Regions from separate parts of the Homo sapiens genome. Here region 2 is linked to region 1. The links come from fine-mapping of genetic effects on plasma protein levels. A gene starts in region 1. The other region holds a variant in brackets. All regions are shown on one strand. Distances are between the middles of the regions.

Region 1 (3,028 bases):
CTGAGCCGATTACTCATCCTTCTCCAAACTTTCTAAGAGTGCTGCAAAACTTTTCAAGTTTCAACATCTGTCAGATCCATTGGGTCCCCTCCATGTATTTTTTCATTGGAAATATCCCTCCTTGAGCCTGGCGTCTGCCACTCACTTGGGCTAGTTGCTCTCCAAGCCTGTTGTACTCTTATCATCTTGGGATCTCCCTTGGCCACCATTCTTGGAATTCTCTCTCTTCTATTTGAAATTTGCTGTTTTTGGGAGCCCATTTTTCCTTTTTGTTTTGGCTTATGCTCTTGTTTTTGTAGTCACTTTTTTCAATAACATCTCGAAAATGGTCACATGGGAGATAAAGTTCTTGAAACTTGGCATGTTGGAAAATGCAGTTTCAAGAACGTTGTTTTACCTTTCTTTCTGATGGATCATTTGGATGGGTAGAGCATCCTAGGTGAGAAATAATTTTCCAATAGAGTTATAAAGGAATTGATCCATTGCTTTCTAACTTCTGGTTTTGTTATTAAGTCTAAAGCCATTCTCATCCTTGATCCTTTGTATGTGACTTATTTTTTTCCTATCTGGAAACATTTTTTTTCTGTTTATTCTTGATATTCTGAAACTTCACTGTTTTGTACTTCAGTGTAGATTTATTTTCATTTATTATGCTGTTTACAGTGGGCCCTTTCAATCTGGAAACAAATGTTCCTCAATTCTTGGGAATTTTATTGTATCACTTCTCTCATTATTTCTTTCCCTCCATTCCTCTGTTCTGTGCTTCTGTACTGCTGGTAGTCAGATGTTGGCTATTCTTCATCTCTTTGTCTTTTCTTCTATCTTCTGGAAGATTTCCTCAACTTTATTTTCTAGTCTTTAGACTTCAGCTCTCATATTTTGAATCTCCAAGAGTTCTTGTTCTCTAATTATGCCTTTATCATAGCATCCTATTCATATTTTGTGGGTACAACATTTTTTCTTATTTTCTATGAAGGTTTAACTAATATTTCTTTTAAAAAATATTCTGCTTTCTGCATTGCCTTTCTTTCAAGTTTTTTCCCCCCATCTGCTGTTGGGATGGGAGAAATTTAATGAATTTGGCTTTGTGGGGTTAGGATTAGGTAGTCTATTTCTTTTTCAGATTTTCAACCAATCTTATGATTTTTGTTTCAGAGGTATAGTCAATTCTCATTATTCCTTCATTATTCCTGGCAATTATGTTCAATAAAATCGCCACAAACACTGAATTAGAAAATACTGCTGAGCGTGGTGGCTCATGCCTGTAATCCCAGCACTTTGGGAGGCCGAGGCAGGTGGATCACCTGAGGTCAGGAGTTTGAGACCAGCCTGAACAACATGGAGAAACCCCGTCTCTACTAAAAATACAAAATCAGCTGGGCTTGGTGGCGCATGCCTGTAATCCCAGCTACATGGGAGGCTGGCCTGAGGCAGGAGAATCACTTCAACCCGGGAGGTGGAGGTTGCGGTGAGCTGAGATGGCGCAATTGCACTCCAGCCTAAGCAACAAGAGCGAAACTCTGTCTCAGAAGAAAAAAAAAAAGAAAAAAAGAAAATACTGAATTATTCTCTGTGGGGGAAATATAGAGTTAGGTGCCTGTGAGCCTCTGGTCACAACATTTTTGTCAGCTAATCAATACATAACCTTGTTTTGTGTGTGTTTCTGTTTAAAGACACCTTATTTAATATACATTGTTGATTCATCAACATTGAACTCATGGCTAATAACAGTACTATGACTCATGCCTGAATAGAGCTTATTTAACACACATATTTTCTCCATGAGGCACAGCCTCCTTCTGCTTAGGAACACCAGACAGCACTCCAGCACTCTGCTTGGGGGGCATTCGAAACAGCAAAATCACTCATAAAAGGCAAAAAATTGCAAAAAAAAATAGTAATAACCAGCATGGCACTAAATAGACCATGAAAAGACATGTGTGTGCAGTATGAAAATTGAGACAGGAAGGCAGAGTGTCAGCTTGTTCCACCTCAGCTGGGAATGTGCATCAGGCAACTCAAGTTTTTCACCACGGCATGTGTCTGTGAATGTCCGCAAAACATTGTGAGTATTGATTTGGGGGGTTACAAATAATTCCTAGCAAGTAGGTGAATTCACAAATAAGGAAGCTGTGAGTAATGAGGGTTGATTTTACCTACCTAGTGTCTCAAATCCTGAGCCGTATGAGATTCCGTGGCATAATTATGTTTGCTTATTGTTGGCAACCTTATTAGGCATTTCTAGGTTTCTGCTTTCTCATCTTTACCAGTTCAGTTATGGCTTGATTCATTTCTCTTTTTCCAAAGATTTGTTGACATCTCTTATTTGCTGTTGCCTCTTCCCATTTGTTTTGTCTTGTGGTTCTATATCTTTGCCATAATTTTTGTGGAGTTTCCTGAGAGAGTAGAGATAAATGTATATGCTCAATTGGTCTTGTCTTAACCAGAATTCTATTTAATACACAACACCTTTAGTGAGCTGTTATGCATGTAATAGGTGTTTACTAAGTATTGGTTGAATAAATTCAAGAAATGCTTGCTATTTTTGTGCTAGCATTTAGCTTTTCTCTATAGTATATTATAATGGAATTTTATTTTATTTTATTTTATTTATTTTTTGAGACAGAGTTTCACTCTTGTCGCCAGGTTGGAGTACAATGGCACGATCTTGGCTCACTGCAACCTCTGCCTCCCGGGTTCAAGCGATTCTCCTGCCTCAGCCTCCCGAGTAGCTGGGATTACAGGTGCCTGCCACCATGCCTGACTAATTTTTTTGTATTTTTAGTAGAGATGGGGTTTTGCCATGTTGGTCAGGCTGGTCTCAAACTCCTGACATCAGGTGATCCACCTGCCTCAGCCTCCCAAAGTGCTGGGATTACAGGCGTGAGCCACCACGCCTGGCTGGAATTTTAAATATCTCATAATTATAATCTTCTAGGTAAAAGACTAGCTCTCTTTCTCACCCTTATTCCTCCTACTTAGTGGAACATTGCCTAAGGAAGATGGGGAATGGGTTAAAAATTAAAAT
Region 2 (2,500 bases), 64 kb after region 1:
CTTATGGCACCCTAATGGTCCTCCCCTGGTTGAGCTGTCTCTCCAAATTAGACAGTTGTGAGTCATCTCTGTCAAGCAGCTGCACTTAGTTAATGGTCAAGCTAATATCAACCTCCGTTACCAACTGTAGGTAATAACCAAGCCACCAGCATAGATTCTTGTACATTATGCACTTAAGTAATCATTTTGATCTTAGCATGCATCAGAATCAGGCCTCACCCCCAAAGTTTCTGATTCAGTGGTTCTAGGGTAAAGCCCCAAAATGTTCATTTCTAACAAGTTCCCAGGTGATCCCAATGCTGCTGGTTGGGACCACACTTGGAGAACCATTGCAGGAAAGTATGGGTAGCTTATAAGGTTTATAAAATGTTGTCTTTCCCAGAGGATAAGCCTCAAAGGAATGACTCTGTGATGGTGCAATTTACAGCATTGGGACCAGGTATGGAGATGCTGGGATGGGAGAGAGGGGAAGATAGGCTTTGTATGGGGAGAGTCTCCTTTGATCACATCCCACAGAGAACTTGCAATGTCACCCCCCAACACACACCGCAAAACAACTCCACTTTCCCAGGTTCTATTAGGCAGACATGCCCTTATTTAGGAGGGAAACTTACAATTCCCTTTAGCACAGCCTCACTCTTTTGACTCAGCCATATGGTGCTAATGCTTCTTGGATTCAATTCCCATCTTAAAATCTTCTCTCTCATTAGCAAATTGACTCATCTGTGTTGGCCCACCGTTCCCAACCCTGCTGAAAGTAGTATAGCCACATGGCATGGAGATGATTTCAAGGTAAACTCTCCTGTTTTTATTAAGGAAATCATTGCCGTGGGAGGTAGACGAGGTGAATGGAGATGGGGAAAGAGTCCTAGGCTGAGCTTTTTTCAAGGTTCACATCAAGAGAACTGGAGTTGAAAAGTCTCAGGGAATGGCAGGCAGGGCAGATGGACTCAGCCTTCCTGGAATGACTTTGACTTCATGCTTTGACAAGGGGAAAGGGCTTCACCAGGCTCATGAGGACCCAGTGCGTTCCCAGGTGGAACTGGTCCCATAAAGGATGCTGCAGAATAAAGACACTGGCCCTACCCTTCCTGACCTGATGGGCTAATTAGAGAGAGAGGAGCCTTGGCTATAGGATTTGAAGCCATTTACAAAGCAGCCAAGAGCACATTAATCTAAAGACTGTCTAAATATCACCAGGGAATGTTGATGGGCATGGCAGTCTGAGGCTGCCTCAGGTTGTTTTTCTCAGGCTGGGGACGTCAGAGTCAGGCTTTATTTAACTGGCATTGGGGTTTTCTAGTGAGTATTCCTTAACTAGAAACCCTCCATTTGCATAAATTTTTAAGTGGAAAACCGTTAGGGAAATTTTAAGGTTTAATTTCTTGCTTACGTAGAAACAAGCCCAATCAAATATAACCTTTAAATCCTTGTTACTGAAAGGCTGTTTCCAGTTTTTCCTTGATGCACAAATTTTAAATATTAGTCCTCGTTCCCACTCAGAAGTCTTTTTTGAGCATGGGCCTTTTGTTATAATGGGCTTTCTTTCTGTTTCCTCCTCTTATCAGTCCGGTATACTGGACTGATTTATACCCCCATTTACTTTCCTGCTTATTAAATGTCATTTAGAGAGTAAATGGATTCATAGGCAGTGCTCTCTGATAACTAACATGCTTTTTGAATAATCCGTAGGTTGGACCTCTAGAGCCGGCACTTATTAATCACTCACTACATGCCAGGTGCTGGGCTAGGCCCTAGGGATACAAATGACAAAGTCACTGTCCCTGCCATGAGGCCACTTCTGATTTTCTGGTGAGGTTGAACAAGTCTGTCTCTATGATGTGGTTTTTCCATCCCTAAGAGTTCTAATTTTAGTTCTTCCATCTTAACTGGGGTTTTGTGAACATGGGATTGTGTGGAAAATAGCCTTGCACACTCTAGCAGAAGAAATTGTTTGAATTGGCTGGGTACAGCGGCTCATGCCTATAATCCCAGCATTTTGGGAGGCCAAGGCAGGGGGGATTGCTTGAGCTCAGGAGTTTAAGACCAGCCTGGGTAACATGACAAAACCCCATCTCTACAAAAAATTAAAAAGTAGCCAGGTATGGTGGTGTGCATCTGTAGCCCCTGCTACTCAGGAAGCTGA[G/C]GGGGAAGAATTACCTGAGGCTGAGAAGTTGAGGCTGCAGTGAGTGGTGATCATGCTACTGTACTCCAGCCTGGGCAACGGGAGTGAGACCCTGTCTCAAAAAAAAAAAAATTATATACATATAAATAAATAAATTTTAAAAATTGTTTGAATCCAGGGCACTGTTTCTCAGGAAATGTGCCACTCCTTCCAAGCTCTGTGGAAGGGCATGCAGAGAGGGTTGGCTACCACTTCTGGGCCTGGGAGGAAGGTGGGGGCTGTTCCAGAGATGGGCATTTGCTGTCCCAAGCCTAACGAGTTTTTGGCTATGTCATATGTGACTCCTAAATGACCACTTGGGATGTCCCTTTTTCT

Which allele goes with the higher level. Alleles are on the strand shown, and positions count from the first base shown. The strength of an association depends on the size of the effect and on how common the allele is.
With allele G in place of C in region 2, the plasma level of the protein whose gene starts at base 1,789 in region 1 is lower (weak association).

What was found. PIP is the posterior inclusion probability: the model's chance that the variant is causal. Protein levels are from antibody-based Olink assays in UK Biobank. Linkage for the fine-mapping came from a reference panel and not from the study's own genotypes, which makes the PIPs less certain.
Region 2: its variant is fine-mapped to the plasma level of the IL31RA protein (UK Biobank, PIP 0.98).

What each region holds. Positions count from the first base shown.
Region 1 is chr5:55,849,569-55,852,596 of GRCh38, forward strand. IL31RA (interleukin 31 receptor A) reads left to right here and starts at 1,789. Exons shown (of 15, transcript NM_139017.7): 1 at 1,789-2,065. The coding sequence starts at 2,003.
Region 2 is chr5:55,914,137-55,916,636 of GRCh38, forward strand. It overlaps IL31RA (interleukin 31 receptor A), which reads left to right. Exons shown (of 15, transcript NM_139017.7): 14 at 711-792. Among named protein-coding and RNA genes, the nearest start is that of IL31RA, 64 kb to the left of the region's middle. The variant G/C (reference allele first, on the strand shown) is at 2,147.